Regions from separate parts of the Homo sapiens genome. Here regions 1 and 3 are each linked to region 2. The links come from fine-mapping of genetic effects on gene expression. A gene starts in region 2. Each other region holds a variant in brackets. All regions are shown on one strand. Distances are from middle to middle.

Region 1 (8,181 bases), 20 kb after region 2:
ACTGTAGGATACAGAGATCTCTCCCAGTTGGGAAAAGAAGAGCAACTGGATTTTCTGTAACCAAGAACTGCATATGGGAAAGGGATAGAGGACAGAGGCTGCCTTCTCTCTGCGGACCCATAAACTTGCCCATGGGCCGAAGCCAGCCACCCTGGTCTGACTCTGCATGCCTTTCAGCTGAAGGAACAATTGCTGCCTGCAACAGTCATTCAGTTTCCCAAGGAATCAACCTCTCTGTGTGACTGGGGAAAAGGAAACAGACATCAAGAGGTCTGCTGGCAGGGGCTGATGCAAGGATTGTAAATCTCTGCTTCATCACATGTGCATTATTTGGGAAGTGGCTGGAAGTTCAATTCATGCATCTACTGGCAGTGCATCTAGGGGAAAGAGCGGGAACACAGGAAGAGGAACAGGCTGTTTCATCCTTAATTCTGCCACTTACTGGCTATGTGTCCAAGGGCAAGCTGCTTAATTTTTCTGTACCTCATTCCCTTATCTGTAAATCAAGGGAAACAACGCCCACATCATGAAGTCATTGTGATGAGTAAATTAAACAATACGTATCATGGATCTTAATAAGCGTCTCAGTCAACACAGAAGTTCCCTCTCTTAAGGGTGACGTTTTGATAATGACACCTTTTCAAAATGAGGATCTCAAAGAACATCCCCAAACATTAGAGGAGGAGGGAGTCTTTTTTCCTTTAGTGTGTCCATTCAGCAGCAGCCTTGTGCCTGTGTACCACCGTGAGAATGGCAAAGTCCAGTCCTGCCTGCCCTCCTGTGCCACTCACGGCCACACGTTTTTAATTTTCACCACACTCATGCAATCTCCTGCACACATCGTGATACTTCGTGCCTCCGTACCTTTGCTTGTGCAGCTCCTGCAGCCTGGAATGTTCTCTCCCACTCCACTGTACCTGGCAAATGCTCACTTATACCTCAAAACATATCAGGACAAAGGACATAGTATTTAGTCTAACACATCTGGCTGTTTGCCTGGAAGAGAACCAGAGTGAACCCCTATCTCTAGCCATATACAAAGATAAAATTCCAGAGGGATTAAGGGCTTAAAAATGTAAAAAATAAAATGTTAACTATCTGTCAAGACAAGCCACAATGCAACATTAGCGTGTACCTGCCAGAGTAGCTAAAATGCAAACGTCAGATGATAGAAAGTATTGGGGTGGGTGTAGAGCAGCTAGAAGTCTCTTACATTACTGGTGAGAGTGTAATTGATAACGGCCACTTTGGATGACTGGCAATATCCACAAAAGCTGAACATACACGTTCTCTATGACCCAAAAATTACACTCTTGGGTAAATACTCAACAGAAATGCAGACATAAATTCACCAAAGAAAGTTTGCAAGAATGTTCATAGCAGCACTATTTGTAATAGCCCCAAATTGGAAGCAACCCAAACGTCTATCAACAGTAAAACATAAAGTGTGGTATGTTACATACAGGACTGCTGCACAGCAACGAGAATGAATGAACTACATGAATTCATCTCACAAACATAATGCTGAGTCAAAGAAGCTAGATACAAAAGAGTACACATGGATATTTCATTTAAATAATGTTCAAACACTAACCTACGATGTTAGAAGTCAGGGTAGAGGTTAATCTTTGAGGACGGTTGTGACTGGCAAGGGGGTGTGAACTGAAGGAATGTCTAGGGTACTGGTAAGATTCTGTTTCCTGATTTCAGTCCTGGCTACATGAGTGTGTTCACCTCGTGAAAATTTATTGATCCATAAAAAGATGTGCATTATTTCATACATATATCTCAATAAAAATTTTGGCAAGGAGGCATCATATAATCTAAGGTTAGAATACCTTCTCAACCAAGGTTGGAAACCTAGAAGATGAAAAAGGTATTTTTGCATATATATACATATACATACACACACATATATATAGCATTTTTGTGGGAAAAGATACTGTAAGCAATGTCAAAAGACAAGCAGACTTGGAAAAAGTGTAATGCAGATGATGGACAAAGGCTAATACCTATAGTATGCAAAAAACTCTTATAAATTGATGCGAAAAGACAAACAATCCAATAATGAAATAGGCAAAATGATATGAGTAGGTGATTCAAAGAAGAAAAATATCCAACTGATGGAAAGATGCTCAGATTCATTAGAATTCAGTTGAATGCAAATTAAAGTAGTAATAAGATACTCATTTATGCTCTTCAGGCTGGCAAAATTAAAAAGAGTTTCTATAGGTATTGTGTGTGAGGTTGTGGGGAGCATGCTCTCATTCATTGCTGGTGGAGATGTAAATTATTACAGCCTTTTTGCAATCAATCTGGAAAAATCCATTAGAATTAAAAATACATATATCCTTTGACCTAGTGATCCCACTCCTGGGAATCTATTCCACAGAAATAGAAGGATCCACCTAAGGGTCCATGTAGAAGGGTGGTTATTGCAGCATTGATTGCAGAGGTGCATTCGTGGTGTGCATGCATGCACACACATGCACACACACAGAAAACAAAGCCTGTGCCTCTCAGCAGGGAAATGGTATAAATGGTGGTACTTTCCCTTGAGGCTCACAGTCTAGAGGGCTGGGGTAAACTCTTGCTGGTTCACAGGAGGTCTTCACATCTGGAGGGGGTGGTCTGGGAGTGGGGTGGGCAGAGTCATGGATGATGAGAAGCCCTCTTCCTCCTAGCCTGAGCTAGTAGCATTGATTCCAGAGCAGGCTTTGGAGAAGTGACTATTTAGAGTTCAGACATTCCCATGTCCCCTCTTGGCGGGACTCAGTTCCTATCCCTCCAGTATCAAAGAAGTGACATCAACAAAGGATCACAGAGGTAGCTCTTATTGACACCCACTGCGGGTCTCATTTAAAATGGCTTTCTTAAGCCAAAGGCAGGCAAATATCTCTACTAACTGAAGAACAAAGGAGACATGGAATCAATTGCAAATAATTATTTCTAAAAATCATGCCTCTCTTCTGAAGTTTGTGTTTGTCATATCTCTGTCTACCTAAAAATTGCTCTCTCTTAGGTGAATTAAAATATAGAGTCAATTCCCTAACATTCGGTCAGTTGTTGGGCAGCCCTGGCCTAGCTTAGGAAGGTAGCCCTAAGCAGGCCTTTAACACTAAGTGAAAGCCCCCGTAGCATATGTATAAATATTTAAAATCATAAACTAGGCCAATAAACTATTAGATAAAAAGTTCCATCTTTCTGTCTTGAAAAATATGCCCTCTTAAGATCAAAATTTTTAAAAAGTATAGCACTACGATTTTTATATGAACAAAAATTGGTAAAATAGTAAAGATGACAGAATTTAATTATGTGTGCATCTATTTGGATATTCTGTTGATGGGCTGGTGATGTTTTGGTAAGTTATAAAGTCAGCATATACCAAATTTATATTGTAAATCATTCAAATTATTATTTATCTTTTCATTAGATTTGTTTTTCTTACCTTCCTTATTGCAAAATTACCTAATTATGTTGTTATAATCAAGATTTTTGCACAATTTGTGTTTTATTGATGATGACGCCAAATTAGACTACCTTTTTTGAGTTGTAATTCTTAGATAATTAAAAAAATTAATTTCAATTTGGAGAAAGTTTCAGGAATAAATGGAATTTTCATTAAAATCTTAAAACGATGTTTACATTTGGAAATGAACCATGAATTTTACATATCCTGTTCAAATACTTTAGTAGAGTTGTGTTAGGTAAACTGTAATTATTGCAGAAAATACTACAAAATATTTTAACTTCATAATAGAAATTTCTATCATACTGCAATTTTTGCTATCTTTTAAGGTAATAGTTTATGCACTAACATGAAGAATAGCTTCGTACATATTACATCTACACTTATACCTCTACTGATTTGAAGGTAAAATAAAGTGTTCATATTGCACACATGTTCCTCAGCCACTGTACAACAATCAATACCACACTAATTCATGAGACCTCCTGAACCACGAACTGGAGCACAAAGAGAAACATGAAAATGGACGTGTGGCCCTACTGGGAAATGGTATTTCACTGTGCAAGAAACGATTGCGTTCTTGCTATCAGAGATAAAGGATTTGACAAGCTAATAAATTTGTCTTTTCCCTTACCTAAGTGCTTCCGCCACTCAAATCCTCCCTGTTCTCTGAAGCAGTGTCTGTCTCCAATATTGGCGGAAGCACAACCCAGAAACCTCCGTGACGTTCAGACATGGTTGCTTTCTGTTTTGAGGACACAGGGCAAAAGGTGAGGAGCCGCATTTCCCTGGGACCTGACCGGTGTTGTCATTGGAACTGACGTTTCTGTTGCCAGCAGCGCTATGCCAGCGCTGAGCACTCGATCCCATGTGCTCCATAACCAATACATTTTATGGGTGTTTGTGATATATGCAACCTTTTCAAGTAGGGCTTCTTAGTTTCTAATTATTAGTTTTTAATTTCCCAACCCAATACAGATCAATTATTTGATTCAATAATTCACTAGAAATAATTCACTAGAAAAATGAAATTAAAAAAAATCTATATGAGGACCTGTGGGGTGACTCACGCCTGTCCCAGTACTTTGGGAGGCTGAGGTGGGTGGATGATTTGAGGTCAGGAGTTTGAGACCAGCCTGGCCAATATGGTGAAACCCCATCTCTACTAAAAATACAAAAATTAGCCAGGCGTGGTGGTGGGTTCCTGTAATCACAGCTACTCGGGAGGCTGAGGTAGGAGAAACGCTTGAACCCAGGAGGCTGCTGCAGTGAGCCAGGATCACACCACTGCCCTCCAGCCTGGGCGATAGAGTGAGACTCTGTCT[CA/C]AAAAAAAAAAAAAAAAAAAATCTATACAAGTTACAAGCCCCAAGTTTTAAAGATTCAACAGATATAACCTTACTGTTAGTTTCTGTGTGTAACTCATCAAGAACAAGTAACAGACCACGTGTGGGCTGGCACTGGTCCACCGACCACACTTCTCTGTGGAGGACTGCTTCGAGTCACTGGAGTCACCAGATTCAGGGTAGGGACCCCCTCTTGCCTCTGTCTAAGAGTGGTGCCGGTAACCACGAGGCTGAATCCTGCCCCACAGTCTTTTTCAGTCTCTGTGTGAGCACTTTTGCCTGTGCCATGCAGCTCTCATTTCACGCCAAGTTCTCTGTTCTCTTACTGTCCTGATACAAGTCTAGCTCCCCACGGCCCCTTCATTTCCACCAGCCTTGCAGCCCCTTCTCCTTCCTGAGGGCCCCATATCAGTGTATGATGAGGGGCCTTGAATGCATGCCGAGAAAGGAAGCTTCTGAGCTGGGGGTCAACTCTGAGAATGTGATGTGGCCTTTCACCCAGCCAGGACCTCTCCTGGGCTAAGCTGTCAGCACCAGGGAGTCCACGTACAGCTGATGCCTCCCTGCGGTGGGGGAACAGAAAGGATGGGGCAGCTCCCCAGAAGGCCTTGGGATTTCTTAGCAGAGATAGGAACTCCCATTCACACTCTGCCAGGGGTCAGCAGCAGTTCTAGAGCTTACCACGTGCTCCCAGGAAATCATACATGTTTCTAAAATCATCCATGTATCTTTTTTTTGTCACCTACATTTTTTATTTATTTATTTATTTTTATTTATTTATTTATTTATTTATTTATTTTATTGATCATTCTTGGGTGTTTCTCGCAGAGGGGGATTTGGCAGGGTCATAGGACAATAGTGGAGGGAAGGTCAGCAGATAAACAAGTGAACAAAGGTCTCTGGTTTTCCTAGGCAGAGGACCCTGCGGCCTTCCGCAGTGTTTGTGTCCCTGGGTACTTGAGATTAGGGAGTGGTGATGACTCTTAACGAGCATGCTGCCTTCAAGCATCTGTTTAACAAAGCACATCTTGCACCGCCCTTAATCCATGTAACCCTGAGTGGACACAGCACATGTTTCAGAGAGCACAGGGTTGGGGGTAAGGTCACAGATCAACAGGATCCCAAGGCAGAAGAATTTTTCTTAGTACCGAACAAAATGAAAAGTCTCCCATGTCTACTTCTTTCTACACAGACACGGCAACCATCCGATTTCTCAATCTTTTCCCCACCTTTCCCCCCTTTCTATTCCACAAAACCGCCATTGTCATCATGGCCCGTTCTCAATGAGCTGTTGGGTACACCTCCCAGATGGGGTGGTGGCCGGGCAGAGGGGCTCCTCACTTCCCAGTAGGGGCGGCCGGGCAGAGGCGCCCCTCACCTCCTGGACGGGGCGGCTGGCCGGGCGGGGGGCTGACCCCCCCACCTCCCTCCCGGACGGGGCGGCTGGCTGGGCAGAGGGGCTCCTCACTTCCCAGTAGGGGCGGCTGGGCAGAGGCGCCCCTCACCTCCCAGACGGGGCGGCTGGCCGGGCAGGGGGCTGGCCCCCCACCTCCCTCCTAGACGGGGCGGCTGGCAGGGCAGAGGGGCTCCTCACTTCCCAGTAGGGGCGGCCGGGCAGAGGCGCCCCTCACCTCCCGGACGAGGCGGCTGGCCGGGCGGGGGGCTGACCCCCCCACCTCCCTCCCGGACGGGGTGGCTGCCGGGCGGAGACGCTCCTCACTTCCCAGAGGGGGTGGCTGCCGGGCGGAGGGGCTCCTCACTTCTCAGACGGGGCAGTTGCCAGGCGGAGGGTCTCCTCACTTCTCAGACGGGGCGGCTGGGCAGAGACACTCCTCACCTCCCAGACGGGGTCGCGGCCGGGCAGAGGCGCTCCTCACATCCCAGATGGGGTGGCGGGGCAGAGGCGCTCCCCACATCTCAGAGGATGGGAGGCCGGGCAGAGACGCTTCTCACTTCCTAGATGGGATGGCAGTGGGGAAGAGGCGCTCCTCACTTCCTAGATGGGATGGCGGCCGGGCAGAGACGCTCCTCACTTTCCAGACTGGGCAGCCAGGCAGAGGGGCTCCTCACGTCCCAGACGATGGGCGGCCAGGCAGAGACACTCCTCACTTCCCAGACAGGGTGGCGGCTGGGCAGAGGCTGCACTCGGCACTTTGGGGGGCCAAGGCAGGCGGCTGGGTGGTGGAGGTTGTAGCGAGCCGAGATCACGCCACTGCACTCCAGCCTGGGCACCATTGAGCACTGAGTGAACCAGACTCTGTCTGCAATCCCAGCACCTCGGGAGGCCGAGGCTGGCGGATCACTCGCGGTTAGGAGCTGGAGACCAGCCCGGCCAACACAGCGAAATCCCGTCTCCACCAAAAAAATACGAAAACCAGTCAGGCGTGGCGGCGCGCGCCTGCAATCGCAGGCACTTGGCAGGCTGAGGCAGGAGAATCAGGCAGGGAGGTTGCAGTGAGCCGAGATGGCAGCAGTACAGTCCAGCTTTGGCTCGGCATCAGAGGGAGACCGTGGAAAGAGAGGGAGAGGGAGACCGTGGGGAGAGGGAGAGGGAGAGGGAGGGGGAGGGGGAGAGGGAGAGGGAGAGGGACTCACCTACATTTTTTAAGGACCCAATTCCAATTTCCTGCCCTTATCATCTCTCCTTCTCATTGATATTTTTCCAGTAGATGTAGCTTTACTCATTACCAACTACTGCCAATTCACTTAAGCTTTCACCTTTAATGTTTTAAAATAACAAGGGAATTCAGAAGTATAGAATGTGGAAGTCTGCCTTCATCATCCTCACAGGCCTGTGCTCCTCAATCCCATTTCCATGAGTTAAGGACTTTTAGCAACTATTAACAGCATGTCCTTCCCAGTTCTTGCCTACACATTTCAAAACACCTATCTCTCTCATCACTCAAACTGGGGGAGCAGGATCATGAGCAGCCCTGTGGAGAGGCCCAAGTGGAGGGGAATTGAAGACTCTGGCCAGCCACCATGTGAGTGTTTGGAAGCAGGTCCTCCAGCCTCAGCTGGAGTTTCTCACGGCAACCTTTTGAGAAACTGAGTCAGGACTGCTCTGAAGCATTCGTTACCCTCAGAAACTATGAGATAATAAATTTAAGCTGCTAAGTTTGGGAGGTTCTGTGTTACATAGCAATATAATACAACTTTCATTTCTCTCCAATGACCGTGTTAGTTTTTAGCCCCTCTGTAGCAAAGCCCCTCAAAAGAGCTGTCTGTACACAGCGTCTCCCTTTCCACCCTGTTTTCTCCCACCCAATCCCATCTGTTCTAATATACATTCACTGAGGTCTGCTCCCTGTGAGACTAGGATGTGTAGTTAAAATGTCCTCATGTTCCCTGTTGCAGACCCTGAGATG
Region 2 (8,181 bases):
AACCGCCCCCATGATTCAATTACCTCCACCTGGTCTCTCCCTTGATTAGCTTATGGGGATTACAATTCAAGATGAGATTTGAGTGGGGACACAAAGCCTAACCATATTAGTTGTTATAAGATATTTAATACTGGGCTGGGTGTGGAATCACAGCTGTAATTCCAGCACTTTCAGAGGCCAAGATGGGAGGCCAAGGCCTGATCCCAGTAGTTGAAGACCAGCCTGAGCAACTTGGCAAATCCTGTCCCTACCAAGAATATAAAAATTAGCCGGGTGTGGTGGTACATGCCTGTAGTTCCAGCTACTCGGGACACTGAGCATGACAGGTCAAGGCCACAGTGAGCTTGAACATGCCACTGCACACGCCAGCCTGGGTGACAGAGTGAGATGCTGTCTCAAACAGAAAACAAAAACTAAACAAGATATCCAATATTAAAAACCTGTCGTTTTTGACTGCCTTTCTTTACTCCACCACATCCAAACTATTATTCAGGTTATCTCTCAAATCTCACCTCTTCTACATCATTGCCGAGTTTGGTTCGGGCTCCTTTCTCCCTTTACACAAACCCTACAATGGCCTCTTAAACCAGTGTCAGGATGTCAAGATATTCCTCCTTATGAATCACATTAAATGGCATTTTGAGTGTGTCTGTGTGACAGAGAGTGTGAATACGAGTGTGTCTCTAGAGAAGTCAAACTACAACCTCAAAATGAGATTCTGATACAAGTACTACACCTGCTCCCCCTCATCCCTCCTATATCCCCCTATCTTTGGGCTAAAAATCCTCTTTGGGTAATAAATGATGAGAAGCAGTGAAACAGTTTAGAACCACTGCTCAAAATCCACCCTTCACATTCCCACCAATTCTCAACAAAGAACTTGTCATCAGTTAACTACTTACAAACCTTTATGGCTTCCCCATAAAAGGCCCTTCACAATCTGGTCCAACCCTTCGTTCTCAGCATCATCTCTTTACAACCCTCTACCATAGGATTCTCGCTCCAAAACAAGGCCGACCTGTTCCCAAACAAACCATGTACTTTTTCACATTTGGTTCTCTTGCCTAGGTGGACCTGTTCCCACTTTGGCTTGAAGAAATCTCATTTATTTAGTGTCTGTCCTATGAAAGTCACTGTAGTAAAATATATTTTCCAAGATGGTGGCAATAAGATGCCCCATTCCAAATGTTCTTTTCACAATGTGACACTGATGCTCCTCCCATCAAGGTTTGTTCTATGTCCCCTCCCTTAAAACCAGGTGGACCTGTGACTCTGGTAGAAGAGTTCCTATGTGCTTCTAAGGTAAGGTCGTAAAAGGCATTAAGGCTTCTGCCTGGTCCTCGTGGGTTGTTCCTCTTCTAACCATAATTGTTATGGATTGAATTGTCCACCCCCCACCAATTCATATGCTGAAACCCTAATTCCCAATGTGACTATATTTGGACGTAGGGCCTTTAAGGAAGTAGTTAAGGTTAAATAAGGTCATACGGGTGAGCCCTATTCCAAAAGGACCTAGTGTCCACATAAGAAGAATAAGAGGCACCAGGAGTGTACATGCGCAGACTAACTGAAAAGCCAGCTGGCTGCAAGCTAGGAAGAGAGGCCACATCGGAAGCCAATCCTGCCAACACCTTGATCTTGGACTATCAGCCTCCAGATCCACGAGAAAACAGATTTGTTGTTTAATCCACCTAATTTGTGGTATTCTGTTCTAGCAGCCCAAATGACTGATACAATAATATGTTTCCAACAAGTGAGACAGGGGCCTTGCTTCACCCATCTCTGTATCTTAAGAACCTAGCACAGACCTGACACTAACCATGTAGTTGGTGAATATCTGCTGAATGAACGCGCATAAAGCAAGGAAGGACAATTTAATCCCAGCACTTTGGGAGGCCAAGATGGGAGGCTGGCTTGAGCTCAGGAGTTCGAGACCAGCCTGGGCAATATAGCAAGACCTCGACTCTACTAAAAAAAATAAAATAAATAAAAAATTGGCTGGGCGTGGTGGTGCTTGCCTGTCGTCCCAGCTACTCCAGAGGCTGAGGCAGAAGGATCTCTTGAGCTCGGGAGTTCGAGGCTGCAGTGAGCAGTGATTGCACCACTGCACTCCAGCCTAGGCGACAGAGAGAGAGACCCTGTGTCCAAAAAAAAAAAAAAAAAAAAACCCCAAAATTATAGCTAATATCGAATGCTTTTTAAAGCAGGCACTATGCTAGAGAGATTACATGAATGATGTCATTTAATCTTCAGGCCAAGTTTGCTCTACTTTACCCCTCCCGGCCCCAACACTCCACAGAAAGTAGTGAGCTACATGGTAGAGGGCCTGCTTTTATGTGGTGGTTATACATAACTCTGAGATTACGGCAAGAAAGTCAAATCGAACTGAGACAGGGACTAAAGTTAGTGTTTACAGTATCAATACTATAAAGAAAATAATTACATTCCCAAGGAAAAGTACAAAGAAAGGAGGTAGTGTCATTTGGAAGAACCTTAAATATGCAGTGTCACTGAAGTCAGGGGAAGAAAAGAATTTCACGGAGAAGGGCGTGTTCAATGCGTGGAAGGCTGCAGAGTAGATAATGAAGATTCAAAAAGGCAAATCTGAGAGGAGTTGCAGTACAGTCGTGTGGTTTCTAGACTACACGGCGTTTCGAAAGTGGGTAAAGGCAGACATCACGCGTCTTCAAGAAGTTCAGAAGAAAGAGGAAGAGTGTTGTCATAGTGGGTAAGGTCAAGTATCTTTGATTGCAAAACAACAGTCGCCAGAAGAGAAGGGGCTAAAAGTTGGAACGAGGAAGAAGGCTCGGAGAAAGGTGTCAGACAAAGCGGGATTAGCAAGAAGCTGTTAGGGCTGGTCCTACCGGGATGAGAGAAAGGCGCAGAGGCCAGCCGAGTGGAAAGAGCAGCGGTGACGAACCGGGTTCCACTCAGACGTCCGACACTTCTCGCCAAGGGGCCAGCGCGGACAGCAGCGCCTCCCGGGGACCTCTGAGAAGCCCTGTTTCTGCGCGGCTCCGCCCGACCTCCAAGGCCGACCTCGGAGGCTCAGAGACCCAGGCCCCGTTGGCACTCACCCCACTGCCACGCGGCGCCAGCGCCGGACTGGCCGCACGATAAGCGCGTCCCAGGCTGCCGCCAACCGGCCCTCGGGGGAGACGGGTCCCGGGGGCGCAGGCGCGGGCCCCAGACACAGCGAGCTCCAGAGAGAGCGCAGCGCCGAGCCTGGCAGCTCTGGCTCCAGCAGGAAGACGCAGCCCACGGCCAGCGCCAGGAAGCCCGCGTACGCGGAGCCGCGCCACAGCGCCATGGGGACCCAGGCGCCGCACCTGCGCGAACCAACTCCTTTCCTAGCCCGCGCCTCTTCCGGGCTCGGCGCGCGCCGATGTCGACACAAGCGCTACGTCACAAGGGTGCGCCACGGGGCCCCCCAAGGGGCGGGGCGACGGGCGGCGCCAGGACGGAGCGAGGGGGGACCCCACGCCTCAGTCCCAGGCCTGGCACTGCGGTGTTGCCGCCCCGGAGGAGGTGGGACAACGGCGGTTGTGCCAGTCCGGGCGCTGCACCCCCTTCCCGGAACTCTAATCGTATCCCCAAATAGAGGGATGGGAACACATTTGCTTTCGCAGTAAAACGAAACGGACAGATTGTGAAGAAGCGGACAAACCTCGCGTTAATATTCGAACCAGTGGGTGTCCCCATTGGCACGGATCACACCCCCATCTTTTAATCCCTCCCTCCGCCCGTGTCCCCTCATTTGCTAGACTTGTCCTCTTCCAGGCCTAGTGCTCGGCGCTTCTGAGAGGAATAGGCTCACAGAATAGCGGCGCTGCCGAGACCCCTGGGGTACGCGAGGCAGGGGGATTCCGCCCCTTTGGAAGGTGGCCGAGACCCTCAGCCACTAAAGGACTTCGTCGAGACAGGAGAGCCCGCAGAGATCGTTCTCTTCTGGATAACCAGATTATTCCACAATCAAACTTTAACCCTTTTGGGGGCGCTGTTCCCTTTAACAAACTCTGGAAAATGTACACAATCTTGTGCACAACACGAGAGTTATGGACCTGGGTTGAGAAACGCTGCTTTCTTTTGTTCCCCCTTGGTGACATCACTTAAACCCAGCCCTCTCTTCGCTGATACTTTTCTGTGCATGAGGCTAGGTTGAGAGACAGTGAAGCTAGGCTGGGTACCAGCTCATTCTCATCAGCCACAATGCCCGGCCTAGTCTTGTTCCCTGGTTTGTTTCCACTTTTCCAATTCTCTCGGCTCCTGACCTTGGCTTTGTGTCCAGTTTTCCACTGTGACCCTGACCTTTGGACTTGGCAGCGAAACTTTATTTCCCTAACTTTGATCTTGGGCATTAGTCTTCATTCTCCTCAGCCCCACCTCATCAGAACTTCCCCATCCTGGTCATCTACCTTCCCGCAGTTCATCCTACCCAGCCTACCTGACCATGCCATCCCTTTCGACAAAGATATTCACACAGGAACAGATTTGGGCTACCTTGGAAAAGAAGCCAAAGAGCCAGTCAGATCTTTATGAAGCCATGAAAGCCATCTTCCCTAGAGTTGCCTGTCACTTCTCTCTCCTTAGGGAGACATGTCAGTCAGTTCCTAGAGAAACTGCTTCTTCTCACAACCCTCAGCTGTCAGGTTTCCCTGGCACCCAGAGGGGACTGAGCCAGCAGCTGACCTGAAAACAGCGAGTCTGCTGACTGTCCAGCGATCATTTCCCTCTATTGAGAATTTTAACCAAGTTTCTGTTGTCTGTAGTTATTTGATATTGGCTGTGGACCCACAAAGTCACACAAGGCTAAAGGTCAGAACCAGTTAAATATGTTTCCAAGGTGAAGTTTTGGGGAGCACAGGAAGCTGAACTGTGGGAAGGTGATAGAACAGACAGATCTAGAGGACTAGGAGAGTGCTCCACATTAAAGTGATGTGGACAGAAACCTGCCTGGGGCTTTCTTGCTCCCACGAGAGGCTGCTAAACTTCCAGCACTTTGCACCTAATTCTTCTGCTTCTTTCTAGATTTGCCAGAATTGTTGATTTAGTCACAGAGACAAAACAACAGCAGTTGAACAAAGTGGATGTTTATTTCTCATGTAAAAGTCTAAATGGGGTGTTGGCATGTTGTGGGCTGTGGTAGCAAGCTTGGCCCCCTCTGGTTGCTATGGGACCTGCTGTGGGCCTCTTGCTGGTTAGTCACTCAGTGTGGGTTTGCATTGTGGGTGGTGAAGGGGGCCAGACAAGGAAACGAGAGAGCTGACCTCAATTCCAACTGAGAACTGAAGAGTCAGGAGCCGCAGGAGGTGAAGAACAGAACACCAGGGACAGTTGCCAGGCCTGGCGGAGCCTGATGTGGCTTCTGGTCACATACAGAGTCACAGGGCCCTTAATTCCTTCTCATCGGGGCTCAGGGGCAGGCATTCACTGTCTTGGTGCCACAGTCCCTCTTGAAATATTTCCTTAACGAAAATCAGAAAAGATTCTGATCATCTATCTGTTCAGAGAGTCTGGAATCCTTTGCAAGCCAATTGTTTTTCTAGAAGTTAGGTTTCTGGGGACAATTAAAACAGCTCTGAGTGGGCAGCTGTGGCTCCTTTGCCTAGGCTGAACAAAGAGGAAAGGGCTGGGCTGGGCAGGCCTCAAGACACCCCCCGCCCCCACCCAAATTGCTTCCAGACATGGCCTTTCCTATTGGTTCTCTCTCCTAGGACCTTGAAATGAGAGAAGAAAAGCAATTTGGTTCTAGAAAATTCAGAGGCAAATGGAGGCTCCAGGTGCCCCACCCAAGATCCTGACCTGGAAGGCCAGGGAGCAGATCCTGTATGAACACAAAGAATTAGCAGAATCCTGTCAGCTTCCAAATTAGCTGAAGGTTTTGGCTTTAACATAAATACCCATCAGCGTCACCCCCGCAATCTGAAAGGCCTTAAGGGGCACATTTGTTCCCACGTGGAGCAGAAACTAAAGTGGGACCAAATGGTCCCTGTGAAAGCTGGGCTAACCCACTTTCCTTGCAGCTCCAGGCCTCTGGGGTTTCATCCAAGCTGCTCTTTGAAGGCCACACTGTGTCAAAGCCTTTGTTGATGCCAGGGACACAGCCCACCACAGGCCATGCCCAAAGGCCAGAGTCAGAGCACAATTTTGAAGATTACAGAAAACTCCAAAGAGATTGAAGAGATGGAATAAAGGATCCCAGCCCCCGAAAAGAGAAAGCTTTGTGTCTGTAGCCATAGCCCTTGGCAATCAGACATCCTCCTCACTAATGTGAGGTCAGGAGGGGACTAGAAGTGCTCAGAGGATGGACTGCCTCTGGCCAGTGCAGGGGAGAGGCAGGGGTGTTGAGGCACAGGAGCCAGATGAGAGGAACGTCAGCAGCAAAGCAGTAAGAAGAACATGAGAGTTTCTTGATAGTAATAGAACTTCCTACACAGACTGGGAACCGGGTTGTAGCTTGAGGGGATGTGACAACATAGTGGCCCGGAATTTTCACTTTGGAAATTAACTGCTTTGGACCAGGAAGAAGCGCTGAGCCTAGAAAGGCAGGAGGCACAGGACTGTGTGGGCTTCTGTCTGGCAGGGACCTATGAGCTTCATAGGGCGAATGAATCGGGGCAGGATAAAGCAGAGGCCTCCACCCTCACAGTGCTCTTAGCCATCTCAGGCTTCCCGGAACACTGCTACCAGGCTGCCTGCTGGAGCCCTTTACACTCACAGGCCTTCCTGCTTGGGTTCTCTTCTGCAGGCTGCGTAAACCAGTCCTGTTGTAGCCCTTGTAGCATCTGCTGTAGTGATCTGGTTTGGGTTTCAGTATTACTTGCAATGGTTTGGAAGGAAATGGGAAGTTTGCCTTCTAACTACATTTTCTTTTTGATTCAAGAACCCTAGCAGTTCTACAACCACTGGGCCTAAAACTAAAATAAAGGAAAAATAAATAAAAGGAAGCAAAAACATCTAACTGGGATGGCCTGGCAGCATTGCCAGAGAGAGTCCTCAGGGGCCCATGCTTGTTCTGTCTTTTGCTCTGCCATCCCTAGGGTGGACAGCACGGAAGAGGCAGTACATCTTAACAAAATCAGGGTTCTGGATGAAGGGAGGGGTGGTGAATGGTTGCTGCAATCAACAGTTCATACTTCAATGGAAAGAAGGTGGGATTTGATTCCTGGCTGCAAATCTTCACTCTGTCACCTGCTATCTGTGTGCCCTCAGGTAAGTCATTTAACTTTTCTGTTCTTCAGTTTCCTTATATGCAAAATAATTCCTACTTTGCAGAATGGTTGTGGGAGGTAGAGTTATCTTAAGACAGTCTAGCACAGTGTCTGCTACATGCTGGAATTCAAAACATTCCCTGCTGTTGCTATGGTTGGTTCTGAGAGCTATATTTAATTTTCTTTTTAGTCTTTCTTGCTGGTCTGTCACTCTCTTACTATAAGGAAGACAGCCATTTCTGCATAGGTCACTATGCAGTAGCCTTTTCTATTTTTTGACGGCTTAGCATCTATGTAATATCCCACTGAATGAAAATACTAAAATTTATCTATTGTACTATGAATAGACGATTTGGAGTTTTCCCAGTTTTTTTACTATTACATACAGTGTTGCTATGTATATGCTGTGGTACACGTGTATAGCCATTTCTTCAGGGTAGAAACAAAGTAACATTTCTGGGTCATATGATATGCCTGTCTTCAACTTTACTATATAATATCTGACATCTTTCCAAAGTGGTATGCCAGTTTATCTTCCCACTGGCAGCATATGAGAATTTCTGTTGCTCCAGCTACACTCCAACAGATTCTTAAAGCTTTGTCATTTTGTAGGGTGTGTAGTGGTATCTTACTGTGGTTTTGACAAGTTTCCATTTGTTGGTTATTTGCAAGTATCTTGCCTCCCTCCCAGTCACTTGTCTATTCATTCTTTTTATAATATCTTTAGTGAGTAGAGTTCTATGAAAAATTATTCTTATTTATGTATTTTTGTAGAGATAGGGTCTCTCTGTGTTGCCCAGGATGGTTTTGAATTCCTGACCTCGAGAGATCCTCCTGCCTTGGCCTCCCAAGGTGCTAGGAATACAGTTGTGAGCTACCATGCGCAGGCTTAAAGTTCTTCGTTTTTAGTGTAGTTACCGTTTTGTTCTTTTTTTATTACTACTTTCCCCTTATCATTGGTGCTTTTTGT
Region 3 (8,181 bases), 52 kb before region 2:
AAGGCAGAGGTTGCAGTGAGCTGAGATTGAGTCACTGCACTCCATCCTGGGTGACAGAGCCAGATCCTGTCTCAGAAAAAAAAAAAAATTCTTATGCTATCCAGGAAAGAGCATATATGAGAAATAACTCTGGTCTTGGAGGCTGTTATTTTGTTGTGAGGAGAGAAACAGATACAAGTGAGCACTTAGGGCTTTGGGGCAAAGCCATTTCTTTTGATCTTTCTTCCCAGCCAGAGTCTTATTGGAAAGAGAGAAGGCAAAGTATACTTTTATCTAGAATAAGAAGTTTTCTGTCCCCTCAACATTCCTGAATGTGAATGGGATTCTTTTAGCTCCATTGATTCTCTGGCTGAGGACCCAGGGCCCAGGTATCCAAGGGGCTTTTCCCTCTTCCCCAATATACACATTTGCCAAGTTCCTTGGTCAGCTGATTCTGCCTCCAGCCCTGCCTCTGTGGTGGCCTTTATGTCTATTTCATTTTTCTTTAAAAGGAATCAGGAGCTTAACCCTGGGTCTTCCTGGGCTTTGGCTTGGGAGGTTGGCTCCACGGGAGATGAGGATACCCAGCTCATTTCCTGCAAAGAGGCATTAATGTGGAACAGTACTAGTGTGGCAGAGATGGTTCTTATCAAATAGATACTTTGACCTTATCAGGTGACAAATTAACAAAAATAGAAGGAAAACCATGACTGGGGATTTTTAGTTTTCTTTCTTTATTATCTGGTAACTGTAGCTGCTTTTTTTTTTTTTTTTTTTTTTTTTAAAGTCAAGAGAACTCAAAAAAGCCAGAGCATTTCTGTTCTGGGTGAGGTTGGCCAGACTGTTTTTTTTTTTTTTTTTTTGGAGACGGAGTTTCACTCTTTTTGCCTAGGCTAGAGTGCAATGGCGTGATCTCGGCTCACTGCAACCTCTGCCTCCTGGGTTCAAGCGATTCTCCTGCCTCAGCCTCCCAAGTAGCTGGGATTACAGGCATGTGCCACCATGCCTGGGTAATTTTGTATTTTTAGTAGAGATGGGGTTTCTCCATGTTGGTCAGGCTGGTCTCGAACTCCTGACCTCAGGTGATCCACCCACCTTAGCCTCCCAAAGTGCTGGGATTATAGGCATTAGCCACCACGCCTGGTCTGGCCAGACTCTTTTAACTGCCGTCTCCTTGCTGATGTAAATTGTCTTGTTTGCTTTTTTTCCAAGCTCGGCATTTACCAGAAGGCATTTGAACATCTTGGCAATGCACTGACTTATGACCCTACCAACTACAAGGTATTACAGGCTGTGAAGGCTCTGGCCTTCATATAGACGGTCCCACTGCTCCTAGAGGTGATCTGACCCTGGAAAGCAAAGGAATAGCTTCTTAAATTTGGATACCTGAGAAATAGAAAAAATATAAATAAAAGGTGGCTCTTCTTATTTGAAAATAGTGTCAAGTATGCTCTACTTATCTTCTAAAAGTGCACATTTGTTATAATAGACGTGTAACCCCTGCAGAAGGCAGATCATAGTGCTAGTAAAGCTTATGTGTTACTTAGGAAATTAGCAATGCCTCCACAACTATTGTCAAAAATAAATCTGCGGCCCGGCGCGGTGGCTCACGCCTGTAATCCCAGCACTTTGGGAGGCTGAGGTGGGCAGATCACGAGGTCAGGAGATCGAGACCATCCTGGCTAACACAGTGAAACCCCGTCTCTACTAAAAATACAAAAAAATTAGCCGGGCGTGGTGGCGGGCGCCTGTAGTCCCAGCTCCTCGGGAGGCTGAGGCAGGAGAATGGCGTGAACCCGGGAGGCAGAGCTTGCAGTGAGCTGAGATCACGCGCCACTGCACTCCAGCCTGGGTGACAGAGCGAGACTCTGTCTCAAAAAAAAAAAAAATAAAAAATAAAAAAAATAAATCTGCTGGGCATGGTGGCTTATGCCTGTAATCCCAGCACTTTGGAATGCTGAGGCAGGAGGATCACTTGAGGCCAGGAGTTCAAGACCAGGCTGGGCCACATAGTGAGACCCCCATTTCTACAAAAAAAATTATCCAGGCATGGTGGCACACACCTGTAGTCCTAGCCACTCGGAAGGTGGAAGAGGGAAGATCACTTGAGCCCAGGAGTTTGAGTCTACAGTGGGCTATGATGGCACCACTATACTCCAGCCTGGGTGACAGAGACCCTGTCTCTAAAAAGAAACAATAATTATGTTGAAATGACTTCTAGAGTCCTAATGATTTGATACTACAACTTTTTTTCTAGATGTGACTTTGGGAATGAGAAGGAATAGCATCAAATGGATGAACATCATTGAGGAGATGCAGCAAGACAAGCTGTTTATTAAAGGATACAAACTGAATTCTGATTTAGGAAGTAACATTAGACTGTCAGCTCCCACCTTGATACCTTTCCTTAGAGAAATGAAAGGGCTGGGCTGATGAAGCCTAAAGCTGACTCGCCCTCTGTTCTACGGTAGAAAGAAATTTACCTTAAGTAGCCACGTACAGGTGTATTTCAGGTATCTAGAACACTTGGTATACCAAATAGGGGCTGCAGAGAACAGATTAAAGGAAGTTTTTACTTAAAGGGCTCTGGTATTCATTCTGAAATACTGACTTTCCTGGCTAGAAGTAGGAAACAGATGGGTAAAGCAAGTAACATTTTATCTTTTTTTTTTTTTTTTTTTTTTTTTTTTTTTGTGCTGTGCCAGAGAGCCACAGTGTAGAGTGCAAGGACATTCCTCAGGAACATTTGTCCCAATAGGTTGGATATATTTATGTCCCTGGAAGAAATTTTCCAGTCCCATCTATGCTGATGGGCCTGCTGAGTATAGACTCAGGAAAGCTGCCCCACTGCTACAGCCTTTTGGGAATGACTGAATGACTTTCTCTGTGCCATGTTTTCAGGCCATCTTGGCAGCAGGCAGCATGATGCAGACCCACGGGGACTTTGATGTTGCCCTCACCAAATACAGAGTTGTGGCTTGTGCTGTTCCAGAAAGTCCTCCACTCTGGAATAACATTGGAATGTGTTTCTTTGGCAAGAAGAAATATGTGGCGGTGAGTGTCCCCTCATGTTCTTTGTTTGTATTTCTACATGTGGTTATTGGGTCTGTTTAGCTTGCCCTTCTCATTGAGTGCCCCTTCTCTCTCATAGGCCATCAGCTGCCTGAAACGAGCCAACTACTTGGCACCCTTTGATTGGAAGATTCTGTATAATTTGGGCCTTGTCCATTTGACCATGCAGCAGTATGCATCAGCTTTTCATTTTCTCAGTGCGGCCATCAACTTCCAGCCAAAGATGGGGGAGCTCTACATGCTCTTGGCAGGTAAGAAACATTTATGTGGAAAACTCTCTCTGCCATCTGTAATGAGGGAAAAATGGATTAGAATCATAGAAGATCAGTGGCTGTCTCATAGGAGCCATTCCCTTAGAGATCCTGTAGGAATCTGGATTACTGTCCTGGAGCTTGAAGAAATAGAAAAAGATGACAAAGGAACTTGGTTGTTTCTAACTTGGGGGAGTTTGACTCAGAGACCAACAGGTTAAATAAAGATCATCCCTAGTTCACCTTTTACCAGTTTTTTCCTCTTGCCTTGACAATTCATTTATGTATATATTGAGTCCAACTAAGTTCCAGACAGCAAGTGTTAAGAGCTTGGGTTTTAGGTAGGGTCCTGCCTCTACTACTTATTATATGTACCTAGGGCTGATGTGAGGATTGCATGATTAAGCTCTCAATTAATAATACTGGTTTTGTTGAAATACTGATTTTTGAAAACTGTTGGTTTTACTGTGGTTATATAATTGGTCTATTATTATCAATATTGTTGTTACTATAATTGGCCCCTAGGTGATACTTCCAAGTCAAGCTACCTTATGTTGAAACCCTTATCTCTTCTGAGCATGTTATATAGAATGCCATTCTCTTCCTGAAACTCCATTTTATGCCATGCAAATACTAAAATTGATCATAAAAATAAGTTAAAATTAATCAAACACTTTAACAATTATGCACAACCATTTTAAAGTACTGACTAGTCTTTCTAGGAATTTTTTTCTCCATATACATTTACTTACTAAATGTAAGACCCAAAGCAGATTTCCATGTCCTCATTTGGCAGTCGTCTTCCAGTGGCTTTTTGTTCATTACTGTGGGTTCTTATTTAAAAGAGAAAGCTTGCAAAAGCAATTGTGGTTATTTGAGGGTTGCCTGAATACAAAGATAACTTTAAAAAAAAAACATAGGTTTTATTATTATTCAG[A/C]TATGGTATGGGCAACAGATCAGAAGACATCTGCCACTGGAAAGATAGTCTGTTACAATTCCTGAGAAGGAGGGCATGCTACACCGTGCAGGGCCACATGGGGAAGCACCAGGTCAATCAGGAGGTAGAGGGAGCAAGGGGTAAATGTGGGCACAATTCTTTATTGTAGTTTTCATGGGTAGAAATGCCCTCCCCGGGGCAAGACCGGGAAAGCAGGTTAACCAGGTTGGGGATTGGCCAGTTTGAATAATTTCAGTGGGCTCTGGGCTATAGGGCTGTCTCTAGGTGTCTGGTACCTGACCCTCGGGTGACTAGGACTAGGGAATATTGGCCCAGTGTCAGGGCCCAGTAAAGGAGGCAGTTAAGAATATGAACACTGGGTTGGTCGGTCTGCATACAGAAGGTACTCTTGTAGGGGTTATATCTAGGAATTAGCTGACTGTGGGAGGGACAGTCTCCCCAGGGTCAGTAAGGCCCCAGATGTCAAAACATCAGAATAAAAAGGCTAAAGTGGGGTGTGATGGTACATACCTGTAGTGCTGGCTACTTGGGAGGCTAAGGCAGGAAGTTTGCTTAAGCCCAGGAGTTGGGAGTACAGCCTGGGCAACACAGTGAGACTCCATTCCTCTCTCTTTTTTTAAAAATTTTATTTTAGGTTCAGGGGTACATGTGCATCCTGTTACACAGGCACGTGTGTCATGGGGATTAGTTGTACAGATTATTTCATCACCCAGGTACTAAGCCTAGTACCCAATAGTTATTTTTTTCTGGCCCTCCCCCTCCTCCAGTAAGCTCCAGTGTCTGTTTCCCTCTGTGTCTCCATGTGTTCTCATCATTTAGCTCTTATAGTGAGAACATGCAGGATTTGGTTTTCTATCCTTTATTAATTTGCTAAGGATGGTGGCCTCCAGCTCCATCTATGTTGCTGCAAAGGACACGATCTTGTTCTTTTGTATGGCTGTGTCGTATTCCATGGTGTACATTTACATTTTGTTTATCCAGTCTACCATTGATGGGCATTTAGGTTGATTTCACATCTTTGCTATTGTGAATAGTGCTGCATTGAACACACACATGCATGTGTCTTTATGGCAGAACGATTTACATTCCTTTGGGCATATACCCAGTAATGGGATTGCTGGGTCGAAGGGTAGTTGTATTTTTAGCTCTTTGGGGAATTGCCAGATTGCTTTCCACAATGGTTGAACTAATTTACACTCCCATCAACAGTGTATAAGCATTCCCTTTTCTCTGCAGCCTCACCAGGATGTTATATTTTGAGTTTTTAATAATAGCCATTTTGACTGGTGTGAGATGGTTATCTCACTGTGGTTTCAATTTGCATTTCTCTAATCAGTGATAGAGTTTTTCATATGCTTGTTGGCTGCATACATGACTTCTTTTGAAGTGTCTGTTTATGTCCTTTGCCCATTTTAATGGGATTGTATTCTTCTTGTAAATTTGCTTAAGTTCCTTATAGATCCTGGATATTAGACCTGCATGGTTTGCAAATATTTTCTCCCATTTTGTACATTGTCTGTTTACTGTGTTGATAGTTTCTTTAGATAGCTGGGTTCTAATGGAACACAGAAATGTAAACAGCCATAATGTAAGAGATAACAGCGATGCTAACTTTACAAAGTAGAGATGGCATTCAAACTGGATCCTGAACAACAAGCTAAAATGGAATAGCACAGAATGGCTGAGGAGCCACTGTGAAGAAAGGCATGCAGCCATGAAACTGCAGTGTCCCTTGCTGTTAGTGGGGGTTAGTGTTAGAGAATATGATGGGAGATGAATCAGGAAAGATATTCTGGGGTCAGATTATGGAGGTCATGCGTACAGTGCAAGGACTTTATCTTAGAGGCCATGTTTGTCCAGCTGTCTTCCTAGATCTCCTCTTAGGTGCCTGGTAGGAGTGAGTGCATAGCTGGTGGGGAGGTGGAATGGGCAGGGCTTCCAGAGCAGCTGTTTTTGTTTTATATATTAGGTGTCAAGGAAATACTGATTTTAAAAAGTGGGGGGAGTGTTTTACTGCTAAATGAAAGTGTAAAGATCATGGTTATAGATGTGGGGGGCCAGTGAGGATTCCTAAGTAGGATGGTAATGTGGTCAGATTTGTAAGGCAGTGAGATACCTGGCAGCGCTGTGGAAGGTGGAATGGAGGCAGGTGGGGACTTTGACACTGGGGAATAAATGGAAAGCCTAAAACTACTTGGGCCTGAACAAGGGCAGTGTCAGAAAAGAAACTGCAAAAAAAGGATGCATAGAACCTGGCAACTGATTGACTGTAGAAGAGATGGTTGAAGATAGCACCAGGTATCTAAGCTGACTTAGTAAACTCTGGTGCCATGAGCTGACAGGGTGAAGTTTACTTTGGGGGTAGTCTTTAATACTCCTTTTGTCTTCTAAGCTGAGCTCTCCAGCTGCAGTGCTTTCTTTGTTGCAGTGGCTCTGACCAATCTGGAAGATATAGAAAATGCCAAGAGAGCCTACGCAGAAGCAGTCCACCTGGATAAGTATGCACTTTGTTGAGAATGGTACTGGCGGGGGTTGGACTCTCCAAAGCCATGAGGTGGTGCCATACATAGCATTGGTGCTGCCTGTGTCAGCCCAGCTGTTCCTCTATGGCATTAGTACATAGCAGACCTCAGTGTGGAGGGATGTGTCTCCTAAGTATGTGGTGGCTCAGCAGGAATTGACACTCTGAGAAAATGTTTCCAGTCCTAAACTGAGTAATCAGGAGGCTAGAGAATGTCAGAACTGGCAGTGGGCTTGGGTTGCTGATAGCTATGGGCTAGCTGGAATATCAGATGGGACTCTGGGCTGTTTAATTCAAGATAAAACTTGACTCTTCCAGGATTTACTCCGCTGGCATCTTCTAGACAGCAGGGTAGAGATCCCTTTTTCAACCCTGGCCTAGGTAGTCTCTGTTGAGGGCTGAGATGCCAGATTTGGTCCCAATACCAGCTTTGCTTGTTAGGCCATTAACTCCTTGATTCTTCTCCACAGGTCTGCTTAGCACGTATGTACCTACCTTGCTGCATAATGGAGAAATCTCTACTTAACCAGTTTTGTTTTGTTTTTGTGTAATGAGAAGGATCTCTAAATGACCATTTGTTGCAGAGCCCCCAGCTCCATAGAATCTCTGTCTGCCACAGGTGTAACCCTTTAGTAAACCTGAACTATGCTGTGCTGCTGTACAACCAGGGCGAGAAGAAGAACGCCCTGGCCCAATATCAGGAGATGGAGAAGAAAGTCAGCCTACTCAAGGACAATAGCTCTCTGGAATTTGACTCTGAGGTATGTCTTTTATTAGCTCCCAAGAGTCATAAGTAAGCTCTCAGGAGACTTTTAAAAATCAAGCCCAGATCATCCAAATCCAAGGTATTACACGTTCATGGCTGTTCTGGCTTTGATGTTCCTAGCAGCATGAGTTCATCAATTAATAACAGCCTGAGAAAAACTTTCCTAGAATAATAATAAAAGGAAATTCAGGCTTACTGAGTTGTTATTGCTAATTCAACTCATCAAAGTTGAGGTCTGTGTCTGTCTGTAGCTTCCTTCTATTTCACTTTTTTTTTTTTTTTTTTTTTGAGACGGAATCTCGCTCTGTTGCCCAGGCTGGAGTGCAATGGCGCAATCTCAGTTCACTGCAACCTCCGCCTCCTGGGTTCAAGCAATTCTCCTGCCTCAGCCTTCCAAGTAGCTGGGACTACAGGCGCGTGCCACCACGCCCAGCTAATTTTTGTATTTTTAGTAGAGACGGGGTTTCACCATGTTGGCCAGGATGGTCTTGATCTCTTGACCTCGTGATCCACGTGCCCAGCCCTATTTCACTTGTTGTAGGAAATGCACTGTTTGGCCCGGTAATGCACCAGGCTTGAATTGTTGGGTTTTGAGATCCTATGTGAACCACCATGCCATCCAGTAAAGGCAATC

Which allele goes with the higher level. Alleles are on the strand shown, and positions count from the first base shown. SD is a standard deviation of normalised expression in the study named. Not every link is listed here.
With allele CA in place of C in region 1, the expression in NK cells of the gene that starts at base 3,377 in region 2 is higher (large effect, 0.75 SD a copy in Schmiedel 2018).

What was found. PIP is the estimated chance that this variant, and not a neighbour inherited with it, causes the effect.
Region 1: its variant is fine-mapped to the expression of ADPGK in NK cells (Schmiedel 2018, PIP 0.95).
Region 3: its variant is fine-mapped to the expression of ADPGK in whole blood (TOPMed, PIP above 0.99).

What each region holds. Positions count from the first base shown.
Region 1 is chr15:72,800,733-72,808,913 of GRCh38, forward strand. No RefSeq gene overlaps it. Among named protein-coding and RNA genes, the nearest start is that of ADPGK, 21 kb to the left of the region's middle. RefSeq lists an enhancer at 6,454-7,350. The variant CA/C (reference allele first, on the strand shown) is at 4,795.
Region 2 is chr15:72,780,382-72,788,562 of GRCh38, forward strand. ADPGK (ADP dependent glucokinase) reads right to left here and starts at 3,377. Exons shown (of 7, transcript NM_001365225.1): 1 at 3,078-3,377. The coding sequence starts at 3,310. It overlaps ADPGK-AS1 (ADPGK antisense RNA 1), which reads left to right and starts at 2,454. Exons shown (of 3, transcript NR_040107.1): 1 at 2,454-4,815; 2 at 7,041-7,212. RefSeq lists enhancers at 2,753-2,822, 3,583-3,642, 3,693-3,902 and a silencer at 3,073-3,532.
Region 3 is chr15:72,728,425-72,736,605 of GRCh38, forward strand. BBS4 (Bardet-Biedl syndrome 4) reads left to right here. Exons shown (of 16, transcript NM_033028.5): 10 at 1,192-1,260; 11 at 2,881-3,033; 12 at 3,131-3,302; 13 at 6,689-6,758; 14 at 7,401-7,542. Among named protein-coding and RNA genes, the nearest start is that of BBS4, 46 kb to the left of the region's middle. The variant A/C (reference allele first, on the strand shown) is at 4,240.